3 linked regions of the Homo sapiens genome follow. The protein of the gene in region 2 interacts with the protein of the main gene of each other region in a biochemical or structural test. Each region holds a gene or a part of one and is shown on either strand. Other genes may lie near its edges.

The links.
Region 1: the proteins of CTSB (region 2) and CSTB form a complex in vitro, tested with the Homo sapiens proteins (2 studies listed by BioGRID).
Region 3: the proteins of CTSB (region 2) and CST3 form a complex in vitro, tested with the Homo sapiens proteins (one study listed by BioGRID).

Annotation. Positions count from the first base shown.
Region 1 is NC_000021.9:43,773,450-43,781,166, forward strand, and holds CSTB (cystatin-B), read right to left. Parts: upstream 2,860-7,717; 5' UTR 2,821-2,859; coding exon 2,755-2,820; intron 1,311-2,754; coding exon 1,209-1,310; intron 882-1,208; coding exon 753-881; 3' UTR 501-752; downstream 1-500. UniProt on the Homo sapiens protein: This is an intracellular thiol proteinase inhibitor. Tightly binding reversible inhibitor of cathepsins L, H and B.
Region 2 is NC_000008.11:11,865,088-11,872,149, reverse strand, and holds the start of CTSB (cathepsin B isoform 1 preproprotein), read left to right. Parts: upstream 1-4,062; 5' UTR 4,063-4,149; exon of another isoform or gene 4,150-4,896; intron 4,897-7,062. UniProt on the Homo sapiens protein: Thiol protease which is believed to participate in intracellular degradation and turnover of proteins. Cleaves matrix extracellular phosphoglycoprotein MEPE. Involved in the solubilization of cross-linked TG/thyroglobulin in the thyroid follicle lumen.
Region 3 is NC_000020.11:23,634,956-23,642,592, forward strand, and holds the start of CST3 (cystatin-C precursor), read right to left. Parts: upstream 3,001-7,637; 5' UTR 2,908-3,000; coding exon 2,665-2,907; intron 413-2,664; coding exon 299-412; intron 1-298. UniProt on the Homo sapiens protein: As an inhibitor of cysteine proteinases, this protein is thought to serve an important physiological role as a local regulator of this enzyme activity.

The sequences.
Region 1 (7,717 bases), on a different chromosome or scaffold from region 2:
ACCAATTCCATGAATGGGAAGTAATCCCTGTTGAAAACTAGAAGGTGTTTTTAAAAACAGCCACGCTCTCCTAAGATACCTCCCTTTAGAAGCCCACGTGGCTCCATGGGAAGCCTCCCGCACCACAGGGCACTCAGTGAGGCTGCAGGCTATTCTGCACGTGCACGACACTGTGTGGCTGCCTCTCCGTACCAGAGCATAAAGTGCGTGAATGTATCTGAGATCTGGAGCCAGTTATGCTCTGGAATTGGATTTACTCACACTCTTTTATTTTATGGGAGAAACTGAAGCTTGGGGCCAGGACCTAAGAGTCAAAGCACCAACATGTAAAGAGTGGTGGTTAGGAACGCGGGCCGGAGTGGGCAGGTGTGAATCCTGGGTCCACCACCTGCTTGCTGTGTGAGCCAGGCAGTCTCTCCGCCCTCCATGCCCCCGAGGGGAAGGACCTGCCCGGGGTGGTTCAGACGAAGAAAAAAGTCTAAAACAAAGGAGGCAATCTGTAAGGATTTTAAAAATATATCTATTTTGAAAATATTCTGAAAGTAATTAAGATCACCTATTGGGAAGGAAAGAAATCAACACAATGAAATTTAGGAAGAGAAATGCAAAAGCAGCTGCAGAATCCTGCCCCTTCCACCCCAAGGGGCACAGCCCGGAGATGAAGCTTATTTTAGGATCACAAGTGCACGCTCTGGTAGACGGAGGATGACTTTGTCAGTCTTCTGGCTGAAGGGCCTTGTCCAAAGTCAGGATCAGAAATAGGTCAGCTCATCATGCTTGGCTTTGTTGGTCTGGTAGTTAGATAAGGTCAAGGGCTTGTTTTCATGAGGGAGAGATTGGAACACTCGCAGGTGTACGAAGTCCTCGTCGCCGACGTGCACCTGGGAAGAGAGCGGAGTGAGCGAAGCCTCTGATCCCAAGTCACCTTGCTGCGCCCCTCCAGGTCATTAGCAGCCAGCTGAAGACAATCTTGTCTTCTCCTGCATGTGCAGGGGATGCCTCACATCCCACACTTGTTTCCTTGGGGTTCTTAGCTCCCCAGAAGCCCTAGTCCTCCTGAAAGGCCGATGGACACACACAGTAGGATGCTTATCTCAGGGGGCAGCCACAGGGCGCCCCAGCACCTAAGACCACACAGCCCGGGCCTGCACAGGCGGTTTCCTACCAGCACCCGTTCGGGGCAGGCCCTCCTGAGGCCCACACTCTACCTTGATGAAGTAGTTTGTCCCCGCGACCACCTGGCTCTTGAATGACACGGCCTTAAACACAGGGAACTTCTTGTTTTCTTTCTCTTCAAGCTGGGACCTCACCTAGACAGAAGGGACAGAATGAGGATGTCTCAGTGGCTTCTTGGATTCCCTCCTGCTAGAGTAACTTGCACGCATGTGAGCACACACACGATTCTGACACTGGCTCTTCACACAATTGTCTCTTACAACTGAAGGGACATTTAAACTGTCAGCCTAATAATAAAGTAGAAAAAAACAGTTCCAGCTGGGTACGGTGGCTCAAGGATGTAATCCCAGAACTTTGGGAGGCTGAGGTGGGCGGATCACTTGAGGTCAGGAGTTTGAGACCAGCCTAGCCAAATGGCAAAACCCCGTTTCTACTAAAAATACAAAAATTAGCTGGGCGTGGTGGCGAGCACCTGCAATCCCAGCTACTCGGGAGGCTAAGGCAGGAGAATCCCTTGAACCTGGGAAGCGGAGGTTGCAGTGGGCCGAGATTGTGCCACTGCACTCCACCCTGGGCAAGAGTGAGACTGAGTCTCAAAAACAAAAAAAAAAAACACAGGCCTCAGCATCGCCTGGACCTGTTCTTGCTTGGGGCATCCCGTCGGTCACCAACCATGACAGCGAGGCGGGCCTGGCCTGTGCTCCACCGGAGGGGGCTTCTTGCACAGATGACCTGCTCATTTCAGCCCCTCCAGAATCTTCTGGCAGGCGCAGAGCAACAGGACGTCCATTTTACAGACGAGGAAACCGAGACACAGGGAAGGTTGCCATCTGCAACCCAGCCCGGTTTTTATCTTGTTTTTCTGTGTTTTAACTTTTTATTTAGACTTACAGTTTGAAACAGTGCTAGAATCGGAAGCATGTAAAGAAACCTGTGGACCTTTTATGCAGATACACTTAAGTTTTTAACCCATGTGCCTTATCACTGGGGACCTCTTGCACTCTCTCTCATGATTTTTTTCCCGAACTAGATGAGGATATTGACAAAGATTCTTGCTTGGCCAAACTGTAGTCGGGCTCCTGAAGCGCCTAGGCCACCTGCGCACTTCCTTGTAAAATCCACTTTTAGCAAGAAGCCTGGCTAAGTCAGTTTAGCCAGACCCTTCCCACCCGCTTGCTATCGGATCACCGTGGAGATCGGAGCCGGCTGCTCACCTGCGCCATCGCCGGCGACGCCCGATCACCCTGCCTGCCTGAAACCAGAAGCGCCTCATCCCTGGGGTTTCCTCTCAGAGACTGTCCATGCAGGGACCGCACCCTGCTCCGGGCTATCAATTCCCACTCGCCCTTGCTGTATTCAGCGGAGCCCAATGTCTCCCCAGCGGCGCCCCAGGCGCGGCCCCCCGCTGCTCACTCGCGCGCAGCGCCCGAGCGGAGGGAGGCCTCTCACGGCCACAGCCCGGGCCAGCCCAGGGGTGCGCAGCGGGGCCAAAGCGGCTTCTTTCGCTCCAGGAGCCGCGGCCGCGCCCTGAGGCTAAGGCAGGACTCCGGGCCGGCCCCGTCCCCGCGGCCCACCCACCTGGTCGGCGATGTGCTGGGTCTCGGCGGTGGCCGGCTGCGTGGCGGAGGGCGCCCCGCACATCATCTTGGCGGCGACGGAGGGAATCTGGCGAGGGGACTCGGCGAGGGGACGCGGCGGCTCCTCAGCCCAAGTAGGCGCTGGGGTCACGTGACGCGCGGGCGGAACCAAGGGGCGGGGAGGAGGCACTTTGGCTTCGGAGTCCCCTGCGGGGTCGCGGTGGCCCCGCAAGAAGGGACGCGCGGGGCGGGGCGCGGGGCGGGGCGCGGGGCGGGGAACCTGGCCACCACTCGCCGCAGGCTGGGTCTCCGCGCCCAGCGCTGGTGTCGGGAGGGAGCGCCCCCCTCCCGGGGCTGGTATCGTCTTTCCGGGCGCCGAGTCACACGGACCGGGGCGGGGGCGCGGCCGGGTGTCGCCGGTGGGTTGGGCGCGCAGGGTGGGACGATAGGGAAGGGGCAGTCGGAGTAGGCGCAATCCTGCAGGGTGGCGGGGTCCGGGCCGCGCACGAGGGAGGGCGGGGCGCAGCGCTGCAGGGGTCAGGGGTCAGGGGTCCCGGCCCCGCGGGAGCAGGTGTGCGGGCTGCAGTGGACATCACCGCTTGTGACCGAGAACACTGAAGGCTGAAGGGGGTGGACAGAGGGGCCCAGGGAGGGGGAGACGGCGCCCACGCGCTCCAGGCTGGGTGGGGGCAGGGGGTAGATCAGAGGGATGAGAAGAAGGCAGGGTTCTCTGGTGGAATTTGCGTTTTAGGATTTCTTTTCTTTCTTTCCTTTTCTTTTCTTTTTTTTTTTTTTTTTTTTTTTTTGAGACGGAGTCTCGCTCTGTCTCCCAGGCTGGAGTGCAGTGGCGCGATCTCGGCTTACTGCAGGCTCCGCCTCCCGGGTTCACGCCATTCTCCTGCCTCAGCCTCCCGAGTAGCTGGGACTACAGGCGCCCGCCACCACACCTGGCTAATTTTTGTATTTTTAGTAGAGACGGGGTTTCACTGTGTTAGCCAGGATGGTCTCGATCTCCTGACCTTGTGATCCACCCGCCTTGGCCTCCCAAAGTGCTGGGATTACAGGTGTGAGCCACTGCGCCCGGCCTTTTTTTTTTTTTTTTTGAGACGGAGTCTGGATCTGTCGCCTAGGCTGGAGTGCAGTGGCGCAATCTCGGCTCACTGCAAGCTCCGCCTCCGGGGTTCACACCATTCTCCTGCCTCGGCCTCCCGAGTAGCTGGGACTACAGGCGCGCGCCTTCATGCGCAGCTAATTTTTGTGTTTTTAGTAGAGACGGGGTTTCACCATATTGGCCAGGCTGGTCTCGAACTCCTGACCTCGTGATCCACCTGCCTCGGGCTCCCAAAGTGCTGGAATTACAGGCGTGAGCCACCGTACCTGACCTCTTTTCTTTCTTTCTTTTTTTTTTTTTTGACAGAGTCTTGCTCTGTTGGCCAGGCTGGGGTGCAGTGGCCTGATCACAACTCATTGCAGCCTGGACCTCCTGGGCTCAAGCGATCTTCCCACCTCAGCTGCTATAGTAGCTGGGACCACAGGCCCACCCTACCACACACATATATAGAGACAGAGAGTTTCACCATGTTACCCAGGCTGGTCTGGAACTTCTGAGCGATCTGTCCACCTCGGCCTCCCAAAGTGCTGGGATTATTGGCATAAACCACTGCACCCCTAATTTTTTTAAAAAGTGTTTTTGTAGAGATGGAGTCTCACTATATTGCCCAGGCTGGTCTTGAACTCCTAGGCTAAAATCGATCCATCCCCCAAAGTGCTGGGATGACAGGCTTGAGCCACCACACAGTCCCTTTGGTTTAGGGTTTCTGTTAGACTGGACCACCTGCGGAAGGGAAGGGTCGCTTGCCTTATTTGGGGTGGGGGTGGGGCCTGTGCTAGGCACCTGTTGGTGTGATTGACTCCTCAAAATGACCCAGAGCCCCCACCCAAGGGCTGTCCCTCAGGGGGACTGGTCCGCTCCTGCATGCAAGGCCCCAGCTGGAGCGGCCCATGAATGGGTTGTGGGGTCCTTTCTCTTACCTGCCAGGGCACAGCCTGGTCTGTCACTTCAGGGAAGGGCCCAAAGGGGTGGGCAGTCAGGTGTGGTTGAAGCCTGGGGGGAGCGGGGCAGAGCCCCCCATCATTGTTGAATGAGTGAAGGCAGAGTTGACCCCACGAAAATGGAAAACTCTTCTATGTGGAAAGCAAAGCATCAGGGGAAAACATAGTCAAGAAGAGAAAGGGATGTTCCCGCTGCTTGTACGGTTCCTGCAGCTCTGTTGGGCTTGTGCCGTGGAAGGTGTTGGCCTTGAGGCCTTTGTTCCTGAGGTGCTTCCTGGAGTCGGATCCTCACTCTCCTTGCTGGAGCTGGTCCCAGGTGCCTCCGTTTTACAAATAGGAGGATAACAGCTGTGGAAATAAAGCCCACGCAAATGAGAACAAAAGACGATTTATTCAGGACTTGCTGTACAAGGGAGTCGCCGTCCTCTCTTGTGTTGACCGAGATTCCTCAGCAGGCGGGGGCAGAGCCGGGGAAAAGCCTGGAATGGGAAGGGGAGGCTCAGGTGCACCTGAGGGAGGCTGTGGCCTGGGGAGACGGAAGAGGGGCTCACTAGGAGTGTGACCGTGACAGGTCCGTTGCCTAGGGTGCAGGAAGTCAGCACACTGCCACCCAGGGTTTGCAGCAGACAGTTTGAACCGCAAGGTTGTAACTGGGAGGAGACCTCAAATCCATCTCCCTGAGGAGTTTGGGGCTGGGAACTTTCAGGGGTTTGGAGTGGGCTGAGGGCGGGGGCTGCTGACCGGTGGAGAAGTGCAGGGTGAAGCAGGGTGGAGTCATGGGGTGGGGTTGAAGATGCTGTATTCTCATGCTGGTTCACTTCCTCTGTGGGGCTCTTCAAACTGGTTGGCCTGGAATTAAGGATCTGAAACGTCTTAAGGAATTCTTAAACAAAAGCCTCATGATTCTGAAGTCAGAGATTCCGTCCATAGGAACAGTAGGGGTGCAGATAGTCACTAGCGCTACGTGACTTTCAGTTAGAAGGAAGTGGGTTAAAGTGTAGCCTGACAAATGCTGAGTTATCCTTCTCTTCCTCCCTCCCCCCTCCCTCCCTCCCTCTCTCTCTCTCTTTTTCTCTCTCTCTGTCTCTTTCTCTCTTTCTTTCTTCAGAGTCTCGCTCTGTCATCCAGACTGGATGGAGTGCAGTGCCATGATCTTGGCTCACTGCTGCAACCACTGCCTCCCGGGTTCAAGCGATTCTCCTGCCTCAGCCTCCCGATTAGCTGGGATTACAGGTGCGTGCCACCAAGCCCAGCTAATTTTTGTATAGAGACGGGGTTTCACCATGTTAGCCAGGCTGGTCTTGAACTCCTGACCTCAGGTGATCCACCTGCCTCGGCCTCCCAAAGTGTTGGGATTACAGGCATGAGCCACCACACCCGGCCTGTAACTCTATTTCTGCTGAATGCTTAGTTATAATAAATATATAATAAATATAATATATAATATATAATAAATGTACAGAACCTGGGCAGAAAGCTTCTGGCTAGCCGTGAAAGTTGAGGTTTGGCCTCTGGACAGTCGCTGTGGCTCAGAGTTCTCTTCCCATATTTGGTCTGGCTGTTTTCTGTTTGTGTGTTCATTGTCTCGCAATGTCAAAGCTGCCTTCGTGCTGCAGGTGTGGGTGCAAGCAGATGTTTTCAAACCATCTTGGAGGGCAGGTGCTGGAGCCCAGCTGCCTGAGTGTGGACCCAGCCCTTCTTCGCACCTGCTGTGTGGTGAAGGACTAATTGCTGAAACTCTCTGTGCCTCTCTCTGTGGGGATAATGCTAATAACCAATCTCAAATTTTTTTTTAAAGGACTAAGTGAATTAGTAATTAAGTACAAAAAGCTTGGGACAGTGTCTGAGCTCCAGGGTGAGTTGTCAGTATTGTTATTATTGGTATGCTAATCAAAGCCAACCTAGAATTTGTATTACTTTTCCAATCAAAAGCCCTGGAATTTTTTATTTTATTTATTTATTTTTTTGAGACATGGTCTGATTCTGTTGCCCACACTGGAGTTCGGTGGCACGATCACAGCTCACTGCAGCCTGACCTCCCAGGCTCAAGCAATCTTCCCACCTCAGCCTCCTGAGTAGCTGGGGCCACAGGTGTGCACCACCATGCCTGGCTAATTTTTTTCATTTTTTGTAGAGCTGGAAGTCTCACTATGTTGCCCAGGCTAATCTTGAAATCCTGGGCCCAAGTGATCCTCCCACCTCTGAAACCACCTTTGCAAAAATTGTATCCATGAGAAAATGGTGGCAGTGGGAGAGATCTGAACCAGCTGACCCGGCTCTGGCCTTTAGCTTTTAAGCTGCCTTGATTATTCCTGGGTTTAGGCTGAGCTAACTTTGGCAGACATTTAGTTTACAGTTTAGATGATACTGGCCCTTCCCCAAAACTCAACCACCTTTGCAAAGCTCATGAGAGACTAGGCTAGGAGAAGGAGAGGAGCCTGGGTTCAGCTAAGGTGTAGACAAACAATTGCCAGCCATTATTCTGGAGGTCACAGGACAGCAACCTCCCCAGTTAGTCCTGCAGTTAATGTCGCTATTGTAGACTGGCCTTTTGAGATACTTTTGCAGGTTTTGGGCATGTCTGACACCCATGGCTCTACCTGGACCCACTGACCATGGCTCCTGTGGCCCCTCCCAGAAGCAACTCAGTGCAAAAGGACATCTTCCCATGATGTCATCTCCGACCCACTCGGTCAGCAGCAAGCACCCATTGCCCAGCCACACCAACCCCTTCCCCCAAACCACTTTTGAAAAACCCTAACCCACAGGCCTGCAATGAGGTTGATTTGAATAATTACTCCATCTCCCTTGTGGCATGGCCAGGCCAGCCTCACATCAATTCACTTTTTTTTTTTTTGAGACAGAGTCTCCCTCTGTCGCCCAGGCTGGAGTGCAGTGGTGCAATCTTGGCT
Region 2 (7,062 bases):
ACATATTTCTGAAAATACTGGAAACAATCACAGCCAAATAAGAAATCCAGTTCATTTCAACACTGAATAGTTGGGCACTGTAGCGTATTCAAGGATAATTTTTAAAAATTAAAAAGTTAAATCAGGCTGGGCGAGGTGGCTCACACCTGTAATCCTAGCACTTTGAGAGGCGGAGACAGCAGGATCATTTGAGCTCAAGAGCTTGAGATCAGCCTGGGCAACATGGGAAAACACCGTCTCTACAAAAAATACAAAATTAGGCTGGGCCCTGTGGCTCACGCCTGTAATCCCAGCACTTTGGGGGGCCGAGGCAGGTGGATCACGAGGTCAGGAGTTCGAGACCAGCCTGGCCAACATGGTGAAACCCTGTCTCTACTAAAAATACAAAAATTAGGGGAGTGTGGTGGCGGGTGCCTGTAACCCCAGCTACTCAGGAGGCTGAGGCAGAATTGCTTGAACTCGGGAGGCGGAGGTTGCAGTGAGGCGATATCGCACCACTGCACTCCAGCCTGGGCGACAGAGCGAGACTCTGTCTCGGCAAAAAAAAAAAATTCATATTAGCCCCCAGAGAAACCCCACACCCTTTAGCTGTCACCTACCTAACCTCCCATGTGGATTTCACGGAATCATACAATACTGAGTCCTTTGGACCTGGCTGATTTTACTTAGTAAACGTTTTCAAGGTTTATCGATGTTGTAGCATGTGTGACTACTTCATTCCTTTTTACGACTGAATAAAACTCCATTTGGTGGATTTATGACAGTTTGTTTATTCGTGCAATGGTTTTTAATGGATGGACATTTGAGTTGTTTTCACCTTTTGGTTACTGTAAATAATGCTGCTATAAACATCTGGTGTAAGTTTATACATACGTTATTAACTTTTGTTTTAGAGTTGGGGTCTCACTATGTTCCCCAGGCTGGTCTTGAACTCCTAGGCTTAAGTAATCCACCCACCTCTGCCTCCCAAAGTGCTGGGATTACAGGCGTGAGCCCACTGTGCCCGGCGGATTTTTGTGAGGACGTATGTTTTCACCTCTTTCAGGTGTTAACTTAGGCCTCTTTTACGGATGTTCAACAAGCAAACAGCTTTTACACACGTGAGTCAAGGCCTCTCTGTAAGTTCTGAGAGCTGTTCCCCAGGCCCTGAACCCTGACCCCCAAATCTAGCAGGTTAAGCCAAAATTCTCCTCAACTTCAAGGCCTACTTCATTCATTATGCATCCACTCAACTCACATTTCTCTATCCTCTGCTATGGGCCAGACACCCTGCAATGAGCTGGGATGAAGCAGGGGAACACCGCAGGTAAAAATGCTTGCCTGGGTGGGGCTTAAGATCCAGTGAGGGCAGGAAGGAACATATACAAGTAAATATGCTGTATGTTCCTTTCTCCATGAAGCTTTCCTGGATGTTCCAGGAAGGGACGAATTCTACTCTGGTAGTAATATATTTCTTTTCTTGTCTTTTGAGGAGTCTTGCCCATGTTGGAGTGCAATGGCGTGATCTCGGCTCACTACAACCTCTGACTCCCTGGTTCAAGGGATCCTCCTGCCTCAGCGCTCGAGTAGCTGGGATTACAGGCCCGCAATGCCACACCCAGCTAATTTTTGTATTTTTAGTAGAGACGGGGTTTCACCATGTTGGCCAGGCTGGTCTTGAACTTCCAACGTCGTGATCCGCCTGCCTTGGCCTCCCAAAGTGCTGGGATTACAGGCGTGAGCCACTGCGCCTGGCCTATTTCTTTTTTTCTTTTCTTTTCTTTTGAGATGGAATCTTGCCCGGGTTGGAGTGCAATGGCGTGATTTTGGCTCACCGCAACCTCCACCTCCCGGGCTCAAGCGATTCTCCTGCCTCAGCCTCTCAAGTAGCTGGGATTACAGGCGCGTGAACCACCACGCCCAGCTAATTTTTGTATTTTTAGTAGAGACTGGGTTTCACCATTTGGGCCAGGCTGGTCTGGAACTCCCGACCTCAGGTGATCTGCCTGCCTCAGCCTCCCAAAGTGCTAGGATTACAGTGGTGAACCACCGCGCCTAGCCTGTTTCTTTTGTTTCAAAAGTGATTTTTACCTCTCAAAAGTGATTTCTATAATGACACTGATGGAAAATTCCATCAAATAGCCATAACGCATGTCAAGCACTCTGCTCTGCATACCTTCTGTCACACTCTAAGGATGAGAGAGGGGAGAGTTATCCTGGTTCTGGCTGTGTCCTCCCCATTTTGGCCATCTTATGAGCTCCTTATAGAGGTCTGAAATGATTTGGAGTCCAGAGTCCATGGCTGTCAGGATATGACTAGGGTGAGCAGGCAGTTGGGACCACCTTGACCTCCAGCCTCCTGGTCCTCAGTTCCTCGGGTATCCCACTCTGCTGGGGGCTTAGTGACCATGTTTGGGCTCCAGAGATTATTTTTTCCTTCCACTCCTATCCTTAGTTTGTTACTAACCAGGCGGGAGTACAGGCATGTCTCTGAAGACAGGCTCAGGGCTGTGTGACAGCTGACGACCAGGCTGCAGGGAACCAGGTCCCATGCAGTCCTACTGCCTTTTTTTTTTTTTTTTTTTTTTTTTTTGAGGCGGAGTCTCGCTTTTCGCCCAGGCTGGAGTGCAGTGGCACGATCTCAGCTCACGGGTTCACGCCATTCTCCTGCCTCCGCCTCCCGAGTAGCTGGGACTACAGGCGCCCGCCACCACGCCCGGCTAATTTTTTGTATTTTTACTAGAGACGGGGTTTCACCGTGTTAGCCAGGATAATCTTGATCTCCTGACCTCGTGATCCGCCCGCCTCGGCCTCCCAAAGTGCTGGGATTACAGGCGTGAGCCACTGCACCCGGCTACTGCCTTCTTACTGTCGCCACAGCCTGGATAAAATACGATTCTTCTGAGCCTTTTTTTTTTTTTTAATACAGAGTTTCACTCTTGTTGCCTAGGCTGGAGTGCAATAGTGCGATCTCTGGTCACCGCAACCTCCGCCTCCCGGGTTCAAGCGATTCTCCTGCTTCAGTCTCCCGAGTAGCTGGGATTACTGACACGCGCCACCACGCCCGGCTAGTTTTGTATTTTTAGTAGAGACGGGGTTTCTCCATGTTGGTCAGGATGGTCTCGAACTCCCGACCTCAGGTGACTCACCGGCCTCGGCCTCCCAAAATGCTGGGATTACAGGCGTGAGCCACCGAACCCAGCCCCTCTGAGCCTCTTGAATACAACTGGGGTCATGCCTGCTTTGCAGGTTTGTCTTAAGGATTAAAGCTGTTTGGGGAGTGTCTGGAGGAGGGTGAGTCTTGAGCCAACCCCTGCATCTCCCTTCCAGGGCCTCCCGGTAATAAACCCCAAGTAAATGTGCACTTTGTCCGTCCTCTCGGAGCAGGTCTCCGGGTACTCCTGTGCCAAACCGATTTCCGCCCCCAAGGTCCTTCTCCTCTTAGAAATCCTGACGCAGCTCCTAGGTTCCTTCGCAGTGACAGCCACTCTTTTCTATTTGTACGTAGCTGTAGTGTTTTGTGGGTACGTTCTCTGAACAACAAAGTGGCCCTTCTAAAGGCTGTTCTGTGGGGTCCACAGCCTCGCCACCCCCAGCCTCTGCAGCGGCTTCTGAATGAATGAAATAAGCGACGGCGCCCTCTCCACCACCCCACCCCCGCCAACTCGGCAGGCAGGGATCCCAGGCGCGGGTTCTGGCGGAGGCGGTCCCGCGAGGCGGGGGGACTTTTCTAGGCGGGGTGGGGGCCTTGGGACCACCTTTAGGGGCTTTTTCCCCATCCCCTGGCCCCAATTCGCAGCGTTTCGCCACCCAGGGCCCGCAGGGCTCCAAGCCCTTCTTCCCCAGCCCGCGCGCTCAGGCCCCCGCCCGCCCCCGGCGGTGGCCCCGGACCCCGAGCGGAAGGGGGCGGGGGGTGTGCGGGGCCGGGAAGCGGGGAGCGCGGGCGGCGGAAGGTGGCGGGAGGGGGTGGGGGCTGGGAAGCACCGTGCGCGGGCGGCGGGAGGGCCCGGGCGGGGCTGCGCGGTGGTCACGTGGGGCGGGGCCGGGAGGGTACTTAGGGCCGGGGCTGGCCCAGGCTACGGCGGCTGCAGGGCTCCGGCAACCGCTCCGGCAACGCCAACCGCTCCGCTGCGCGCAGGCTGGGCTGCAGGCTCTCGGCTGCAGCGCTGGGTGAGTGCTGGGGACCCGGGGCCACCGCAGCGTAAGTGACCTTGGCGGGGACGGTGCTACCCGGCCGCCGAGACGGGTTCCTCTGCGCCCTCAGTCGGGCCCAGGCGCGGCCCCGCGGCGTCCCTGGGGGCCGGCGGGGAGCCGGGACCCTCGGGACTGTCCCTGACGGGCGGGCTGGGGTGGGAGTCCGCGCGCTCCGAAGCGTCGGCGAGAAAAGCAGAAAACAGCTCCGCCCGCCAGCCCTCTGCCCTCCGCTCCCCTCCCCGGGCTGTGCGCCGGACCCCGGCCCTCGGAGCGGGGACGCGGCCAGGACCGCCGAGGGAGGCGCCTGCGAGGAAGAGCTCGGCCGGGTCCGGAGACTGCTGCCTGGGACCGCGCTCCCAGCGCCTGGGCCTCGGTGTCTCCGGGCCAAACTGCCGACATAATCGCATCTGCCGGCATCTATTTTCGGTTTATTTCCCCCTCATTGCGAAGGATTTGCCTGGCCAACTTTCTGCGCAAGATCCCACGCAATTCCTGGGACCCCAGAAGACAGGTCCTGTTGAAGAACAGGAATCTGGCACTGGGTGGGCTGGGGAGGAAGCCGCACGGTGTTAAATCCATAAACAGGAAGAGAAACCAGACAGCGAAACCAAGAGGCGAATGGGCGATTGGATGCCGGTGGGGAGAAGGCCGGGGGCGCACCCTGCTCCTGGACTCCAGTAAAGGGAGGCCGGGCAGAGTCCCTGGGGCGCCACCTCCCCCTCGGTTAGTAGCCCTGGAGGCCGGGGGGAGTTGGCCTCTGGGGAGCAGTGGGTGCTGGGTGTGGGGCGTTGCAGGCAGGCTGGGGTGGGCGACCCAGGTGGAAGTGAATTGCACTTGGCTTCCTGGTGGGCCTCTGTCACCCCCTTCCCAGGCGCTGAGAAAGCCAGCAGGCTGGCAAAGAAAAGGACCCTAGCGCAGGCCCCACACTCCTCCTCCTAACGGACGAGAGACCCCCCAAACCCACTGGAGAAGTGACGCTGTGGGGTTCAAATGCAGACCTGGCACCTTTTTGTAGCCTGGAAAAACATTCCCACTGCCTGCTGCCGGAGGAGAGGATAGCTGAGATGCACTCTCTTTGAATCCAAACGTTCAGGAACGTAAGGCGAAGAGGCCTAAGAGGGCGTTGGCTGGCTCTGTCTCTCAGGCTGGAGCACAGTGGCGCGATCTCGGCTCACTACAACTTCCGCCTCCCAAATTCAAGCTATTCTCCTGCCTCAGCCTCCCGAGTAGCTGGGATTACAGGTGCCCGCCACCACGCCCAGCTAATTTTTGTATTTTTAGTAGAGATGGGGTTTCACCATGTTGACCAGGCAGATCTTGACCTCCTGACCTCAGGTGATCCGCCTGTCTCGGCCTCCCGGTGAGTCACGGTGCCTGGCCAAGAACTGTTTCTTGTTGGCTCTGGTGCTGGTGACTTAGAACCCGCCAGCTCCTGGAGAAAGGGGCTGGGCCGCCCACCCTGTGTAGCTTTCCCAAAGACAGAGTCAAACGTCTCCTGGAGAACAGAGGCTTCCCTTCGTCTTTGGTCATTTGTCCTCTAGCTGGGGGTACCCCCTGGTGGAAAGGCACAGGTCCCTTGCTCCCCAGGTGGCAACGCAGGCCAGACACGGCCCTGGCACAGCTCTCCTGGGTGTTGGCTCAGGACAGCCCTGTTTCCAACTGGTTAGGCGGTGAGGGGTGGTGGCCCTTTGGTTCCAGGTTGAAACTGCCCATGTGGTGCTGATTTAGCAGACTGGGGAGGCTCTTTTTGTAGGCAGGTTCTTTTCTTTCCCCAGCTGCTGGACCTGGGAGTTGGAAGAGAAGTTGCACCCATTTTAGGGGTAACAGATATTTTCTGTTGCTCTTGGTTGGATTGGGAAGTGAATTGAAGGGAGGTCACGTTTCAGGGGTGCCTTGGGATGTCTGTCAGTGATTTTCTTTTCTTTCTTAATTTCTTTTTCTTTCTTTTTTTTTTTTTTTTGAGACACACTCCCTCTATCGCTCAGGCTGGAGTGCAGTGGTGCGATCTCGGTTCACTGCCACCTCCGCCTCTCATGTTGAAGCAATTCTCCTGTCTCAGCCTCCCTCCCAAGTAGCTGGGATTGCCAGTGCCCATCACCACACCTGGCTTTTTTTTTTTTTTTTGTATTTTTAGTAGAGACGGGCTTTCACCATGTTAGCCAGGCTGGTTTTCGAACTCCTGATCTCAAGTGATCCGCCTCAGCCTCCCAAAGTGGTAGGATTACAGGCATGAGCCACCGCGCGGTGGAGGGGTAATTTTCTTAAATCTGGTAATGAGTTGTGGTTGTGTAGAGTAACATACCGTCCTTTCGAGATATGGACTGAAACATTGAGAGGGAGGAGTTACAGGTATGTCGATTCTTCTTTTCTCTCTCTCCTTTTTTTTTTTGAGGTGGAGTCTGACTCTCTCACCCAGGCTGGAGTGCAGTGGCAAGATCTCAGCTCACTGCAACTCCGCTTCCTGTGTTCAAGCCATTCTCCTGCCTCAGTCTCTCAACTAGCTGCGATTACAGGCATGTGCCTCCACACTCAGCTAATTTTTTTATTTTTAGTAGAGATTTTTTGTCTCTCCTAAAAAAATCCAATGTAAAAAAATCCCAATGTGGGGGTTTTGCCACGTTGGCCAGGCTGGTCTCGAACTCCTGACCTCGTGATCCGCCCACCTCGGCCTCCCAAAGCGCTGGGATTACAGGTATGAGCCACTGCGCCCAGTCTGCTGCCTCTTTTCAATGGTCTGGCCTAAGGAAATTATTGGAAACATGTGCGGTTGAGTGATATTTACTGGGCACTTCCACATGGTCCATGTAAAGGGAGATGGTTGGGGTGACAGGCAGTTGAGTCTAGGGGAGGCATGTACAGATGTGCTGTGCCTCTGGGATATCAGGGTGG
Region 3 (7,637 bases), on a different chromosome or scaffold from region 2:
GTGAATGTATGTGCACAGACACCCCCACACATATGTGCACACACATATACTCACACACCCACACCTATCCATGCATAAACCCCCACACTTCCCCAACACATCCACACACCCACTTGCACACACTCACGTGCACTTCCCCACACAAACCTATACTTGGAAACACATATGCATCTCCACGTGTACACACACTCAGGCACATGCACACGTACCCTGCAGAACATGTGCATCACACACACACACACACACACACACCCCTCTGCAGTGTATGACTGGCCCTGGACCCATATAAGGCACATACCCTTTTCAGATGTGGCTGGTCATGGAAGGGGCAGTTGTCCAAGTTGGGCTGGGTCTTGGTACACGTGGTTCGGCCCAGCTCCACGTCCAAGAAGTAGTTCACCCCAGCTACGATCTACACATGTGAAAGAGCAGGAGGCAGGGACAGCACGTTCTGTCAGTTTCTTACACACACAGGCACTTCACTGTGACCGGGTCACTGGGCTTGCCTGGGGCTTCAAGCCTACCTTCATGAGCTGCCCACATTGTCACCTGCAAGGCACACAAGCCACCTCCTCCTGCCAGCTGGCAGGGATGCCATGCCCCAGGCCTCCCCGGTAACTTGTTTCTCTATGCCAATGCCAAGGATTAACTGAATTCCGCTACCTATGACCCAGGGGGCAGGGACACTGGATCTATTCTAGGAAGGTTCTCATGTGATGATGAAATTTCGGCAAACTTCCAGTTCCTGGCATTCAGTCCACAGAGCATCTCATTCCTGCCATTTAACCCAGAGGTATTTTTCCTCATTTCTCACTAGGAGATGAGATGCTCACATACATTGATGTTTTAGGCCAATAAACATTGCTTCCCACGTGCTTCCATTCCAGGTGTGATTTTCAAGGCAATATTTCTAAAGTGAGTCACACACCTGCATGTCTTAGGGTTGCAACTTCAGAAGAGAACTGAATGCTTTCCCTGCACAGTGCCGCCCCAAAACATGACTTGTCAGAACTGTGGAGAAGCATGGGATGAGGGACCCTGGGACCAGGGTGCTAGACCTTGCCCTGTGGAACCACACACAAGTCCTGTAGAAGCACAAGCAAGGCCTGTGATCCCTCTGGTGTCAGTCTGCTCCTCTGTAAAATAGGCTCCAGGGCCCAACGATCTACAATGCCCCATGCTTCACTCCCAGTGAGAGAGAGGTGCAGGCCAGCGGGGACCCTACACCAGGGAATGGCCCTCCTGTGCAGGGAGAGGGCCCCAGCTGACGGCTGCGGGAGAAACGCGGCTGGTCTGGACTCCTCTGAATTTCCAAGAGAAGGTGGAGGAGCTCTAAAGTCTGTGTCACTGTTCGCTGCTCTGCCATGGGATGCAGGTCAAGCTGGGCCTGGTAGCCCTACTGAAGCTCCCTCCCGATCCGACCCCCTACTCCGGTCTGCTGGGTGTCTTCATCTGGCTGAGGTCTAACTCTGCATCAGCTGATAGAGGCAGGGTCAGGCATGCTCCACCCCAGCAGGGACTCAGCTGCCCTGGGATGTAGGGGGTGGTCAGCCGGCCTGAGGGTGAAGGCCGCTAGTCCTAGGGGACTGTGCCCAGGGGTGTGACTTGGGGAGGGAAGCAGGGCTCTGCAGGACAAGGTGCCAGGCTCACGTGTGGCCCCTGCGGAGAGTATTCTGGGAGGAGGATGAGCCGCATGGCCTAGATCTCATCTTGAGCAGCATCAAGCCCACCCAGAGTCAGCATAGTCTCCATCCACACCTGCTAGACCCTGGGAAATGGCACGGTCGTGGCACAGACCCAGCTGCTGCTGCAGGTTAAAAGAGGCCGAGGGGACAGGACAGGGCTGAACTCATGCACTCATGGCCCAGGAGCGTCCTAGGGCACGAAGGCCGTCAACAGACAGGGAAAGCTGAATGAGTCTGAGCATTAGATCATGAATGTGTCAGTGCTGATTTTCAAAATGGAATAGTGATTATGTGCGATATTGCCCTTGTTTTTAGGAAAAACACACTGAAGTGTTTACTTTCAAAAGATTCAGGCAAAAAATGCATATACAGTACATATACACACACCCATATTCACATTCGGAAAGTGAGCTGGGGGGAACAAACAGGGCAAAATGTTAACATCTGTGCTAACATCTGAGGGATCTGGGTGAAAGATCTACAGGGATGCCCTGTGCTATTTTGCAGCTGCTCTGTAAGTCTGAAATTACGGGAGAATAAAAAGTTAAAAGAAACAAAAGTGCTTAAAAATTATTTGGTGGAAGAACAAGGAGGCAGCCAGATGAGGGGCTCTGTTTTTCCTTCTCCTGCGTATTCAGCAGCGCACCCGGAGCCCAGCGTCCCAGGAGGTCGGGACAGAGCTGTGTGGGACGTCCTGTGCCTGCCCCCGCGCTGCGGCGCAGCTCGAGCTGGCTCCTGGAAGCTGATCTTAGGCGCCGGGCGCGGACCTGACGTGTCCGTGCGGTTCCAGGCCAGGCCAGACTCAGGGCATTCCCGGACACGCCCGCCAAGGGCTCGGGGGTGACAGCGAAGACCGGGAACAGGGTCCGGGTGAGAAGCCCAGGCGCCGGAGAGGAGCAGCACGGGGTCCGGGAGCAGCGCGGGGGGAGGCTGGGACGGCGGGGCCGGGGCTTCGGACCCTGCGGGGGGCGGCACGCACCTGCTTGCGGGCGCGCACCACCTGCAGCGCGCGGCTGTGGTACATGTCGTTGCTGGCTTTGTTGTACTCGCCGACGGCAAAGTCCAGTGCACGCCGCACACCCTCCTCCTCCACGCTGGCGTCCATGGGGCCTCCCACTAGGCGCGGCGGCTTGCCGGGACTGGAGCCGGCCGCGGGGCTCACGGCCAGGGCCACGGCCAGGATGGCCAGCAGGAGCAGCGGGGCGCGCAGGGGCCCGGCCATGGTCGGCTAGGACGCGGGACGCGGGGAGTGGGGCGCAGGCGAGAGGCTGGAGCTAGATAGAGAGGACCCGCTGCGATACCGAGGCGAGGCCGTGAGCCCCGCGAGGCCGGCGACTGCGGTTTTATCCCTTCCGGCCTTCGCCGCCCCACCCCACCGCGGCCTGCACTCCCTTTTCCGGAACGCCTCGTCCCTCCCACCTCCCTTCTCCCTCCCCGCCTCCCCTGCCTCTCCCCGCCTCCCCTGCCTCTCCCCGCCTCCAGGTCCCTCCCTATCAGTCTCCTCCCATCCCAGCCTCCCCTGCCCCTCCAGGCTTCCCTGTCCTTCCCCATCCATCCCCTTCCCTCCCCTCCCAGCCCCTCCCGGCCTCTCCTCTCCCTTCCCGCCTCCCCTCTCCCTCCCCTCCTCCCCTGGCCCCCCAGTCTCCCTGGCCTTCCCTATCCATTCCCATCCATCCCCTCCCCTCCCCTCCCCCTCCTCTCCTACTGTCTTCCAGCCTCCCCTGCCTCTCCTATCCTCCCCATTCCTCCCCATCCATCCGACCATTCCCACCTCCCCACTTCGGGCCCCTCCATGCCGCCACTCTTCAGGCTCCTTCTCCTCTGTCCCTTTCCCCTTTCAACCCCCAGACACCGCCTCCCATGCCCCTCATCTCCCTCCTCCACTCCTGTCCTTGCTCCCACTTCGCCCCCACCCCAGCTCGGCCCCTCTTCATCGCCCCTCCCTCGTCCCGCCCCTCCTCTGTCTTCCCTTCCTACCCATTCCTGGCCTCTCCCTGTCCCTGTCCCTCCTATCCTCTTCTTTCCCCTCTTCTCACCCCACTCCTGGCCCCTCTTCCCCCACCCCTTCCACACCTATGCCCCCCTTCTACCCACTCCACCCCCTCAGCTCCATCTCTTCCCAAAGACCTGTCCCTCCTCCCAAGCTTAGGTCACCCTGCCCTCCAGAGAGGTGTCAAGGCCCCCTGGGCCCTAAAAGCATACGACCCCCTAGCTTCATTTCCTCAGAAAAGGGAAAGATAGAGGTCTCGGCCTTCCGGAGTCTTCAGAGGTCCTGAGTATCCGTGAGCATTTGGTCAAGGTCTAGAAATCACTAAGGCAGAGGTGTGATTCCAGAGGCCACAGGAGACTCAGGCCATGCCCTGTGCTAGGGAACTTTTCAAACAGAAGAATTAACCTTTATTTGAGTAAAAAACTCTGGGTTCTCCTTTCACAACTCATTATTCAGTAAACAGACTTTTCACCAGCTTCCCCCTGCACCAGGTAGTCTAGGAGCTAGAGACGGAGCCTGGGTGACCGAGCCATGGACACTACATTGCAGGGCTGCTGCCAGACAGAAATGTGACACGAACCCAGGAGCAATTTAAAACTTTCTGGGAGACACATTTCAAAAAGTAAAAAAGAAACAGGTGAAGGTAATGTTTATAATATTTCTTACTTAACCTAATATATCCAAAATATTATTTCAACACATAAGAAGAATCATTAATAACATAGGTTATTTTATTTTGGGTGTGTGTACTGAGTCTTTGAAATTCCCTGTGTATGTGGGTGTCAATTGTACTGGCCCCATTTCAAGCACCCTGTGGCCACATGTGGCTGGTGGCTGTGGCACTGCACAGCCCAGCATTAGGGTGTGTGGGAGGATGGCGAATAGTGATCAATAATTAATATCAGGAAATTAGTCTCTCTGTTGGAAGTGAGAGTATGGGATAGAGAGAGATGATGCCACTGGACCTGGTCAGGGAGGACTCTATGAGACTGGAAAGGTGAGAAGCCCTGCCTAGACAGGAAACAGCCCCAGGCAGCGGGAAGGGCCAGTGCAAAGGCCCTGAGGCGGGGCTGGGCATGCCTGCTCCAGGAAGAGGAAGCTCCTGGAGGGAGTGTGAGCAGGGAAGGGAACGATCTGGAGTCTCATGGTAACTGTGGGTGGGGCCGGGTGGAAGGTGCAGTGAGACCCATTGGCAGGCAGTGGGGGTGTCAGGAGAGGGAGCAGCAGCCACAGGATGAATGTGGGAGCCCACGGGTGTCTCTTGCTCCTCCCCTCTGGGCGTCATGCTGCTGGCGCTGGTCCTCTGCACTGCTTGGAAAACTCACCTGAGTTTAGAACATCACTGTGAGTGAGGTAGAATTTATAGACAACAAAATGTCTAATCTGGGGGATTTCATTAACGCATATACCCGTGTTACCACTTTGTCCAGACCTGTGACATCTGCCTTGCCCCAGACGGTGTGTCCTCCTGCCTCTGCAGCTCACCCTCATGCCCATCCTGCCCTGGCAGCCCCCATCCTGCCCTATAGACTCGTTTGTCGCCTGTCCTTGAGCTTCCCAGAAATGGAGTCCTGCAGAGCAAGCCTGGGTGTGTCTTTGTCCTTTGCTCAGTGTGGCTTTCCAGTGGGCCCTGAGTTCCTTCATTGCCAGGATTGTGAGTTCTTCTCCCCAGACTGAGAGGACCTGATCAGCTGGGTGCCCTGTGGGGTGACAAAGTCCCCAGCTTGGGATGCTGCGGACCTGGGCTGGAATGTGACTCCAGGAGTGGCGAGGGTGGAAAGGAGGCTCTGAACAGACAGCTGCTCCCTTTGTTCTCTCAACCCCACCCTCCATGCCTGAAGGTGACCCTGTGGCAAATGCCCTTATGGCGAGGTGGCAGCTTTGCCAGAAACACCAGAAAACTCTGGGCCTTTGCAGGGCACCCAGAGGACTCTCCTGGGAGTGGTGGAGGTGAGGGTCAGCCAGGGTCAGCCCAGACCTGCTGTGATCCTGGGGCTCCGCCATGGCTGGGGCTGGATCAGCAGGAACCCGGCAGCGGGAACAATATTACTCATGGATGCTCATGTTCAGTGGTGGGACAGGGGACCTTGTTACCCGAGGCCCAGTGACCATCTCACCCCACTGTCAATCCAGCGTCCCTAGAAAAGCCATGCACCCCAGCAGATACAGCAGGTGGCCCAGATGGTGTTTACTGCTGGGTGAGGGAAGGAAGGTCTTCAAACAGGGTTGCGCATATGCCTCCTAGTTAGACAGGAAATGGGGAGAGATTTTCAGAGAAGGGAAAGAGAGGGCAGCCCCTGGCCAGGTGCTTGTGAGCAGAATGGTCATCTCCCAAGTGTGGGAGTTGGTTCTTCTCTGTGGCTCCCACCTTCCCTGGCCACTGGGGCTCTAGTCTCAAGAGGATGTGTTGTGCAGAGGGTAAGCTGAAATACACACAAATCCCCTGTCTTTTGTCATTAGGAAGGACGTGCAGGTCACCCAAATAGCAGGAGCATGGTGGTAGGTGGGGTGTGAGGTGGGAGCTGAAGTGCTGGCCTATTTCCCTGTATGTGATTCCACCGCCGGTGGTCATCCTCTGTCAGGACGTGCCCTGCAGGCACATGCTGCAGGGAGGGTCAGCTGGCCTGATGCAGCGACCTCTCTAACCCTTGTAGGACAGACACCAGTGTAGGGTGCTCTCAGGAGCTGCAGGAGCCGTGTTCAGTATGCTGTAATAGGAAGTGAAAGGTTACAGTAGCTGGGCAGCTGCTCCTGATATTTGGTGACCTTGAGCAAATGTTTTGCCTTCTCTGTGGTCATGTGTCTGGAGAGGTAGACTGCCTTGTAAACTGTTGTGCCTGGGCATCAGTGATGATGTTTAAACACGATTAAAAGTAACAGAGCAGCCTACAGCTTCAAAGACATGCTACAGAGACACAGAGAGAAACAATGGACCTAGGACTGAGCCTGGGGCCTCCAGCACCCATGTACTTGGAGGAGTCCAGCTGCCCAGGAGGGGGCATATTTCCCTTCTGCCAGGTGATGAAAGAGAAAGCCGTGGTCTCCCAGGCTGCCTTTTTGACTATTGATCTCATCATCTGAATTAGTAGAGTGAGAAATTAGGTAAATGGCAGAAATTCTCTATAATAAATAAGCAATAATAACAACACTAAACAATGCTATAATAAATAAATGACCAAACACATAAACAGCACCTAAAGGTGCAAGTGGTTAAATCAAGTTGGCCAAGAGTTGAGATTCTGCACTTTGGGTTTTGAGCAATTATCACTCGGTGTCTATAGAGGGAGCTTGGACTGAGCAGCCACGGGTTTTGGTAGCCTCTCAAAGGCAAAGCCCAGGAGCCTTCCTTATGGAGTGCCCGGAGTCCTCTGGGGTCAAGCCTGTCCCTTACACACAGGCTCCCTCCTTCTCCCCTCTCTCTCCCCAACGATGGAGGAAATGCAGATGCTTCTAGACCGTAGGCCAACATTGGTAATGCATTTGGCTCCAATAGAGATGAAGCCACATCATTAGGAAACTGATCCGCACTGGGAAGCCTGCTGGCAGCCTTGCAGACTGAGGCGAGAAAGGGCAGAGCCCGGTGTCTGCGGCCCATTTTGCACTTCATGGGGGGATGAGAATCCTTGGGACATTTCTGCTCAGGAGCAAATGTGTAAACGGCGCTCATCATTTTGGATTACAGGGTTAACATTTATTTTCTCAAGGAGTGCATTCACCAGAGCAGAGCCAGTGACTGAAGAACCACATCTGAGTGGAAGGGAGAGAGAGAGAGGCCTCCAGGGACACAGGCTGCTGGCTGGTGCTGCCAGGGCTCCACCTGACTCCCTGCAGAGGCCTGGCCACGAAGAAAACAGATGGCTCTGAGGGGGTTGAGCAATCCCTTTGGCATCTCTGAGTGGTCAGTTTACTTTCTAGACCCACGTTCTTGTAACATTCCCCTCTTAGTGTTTCTGCAGCCTTGA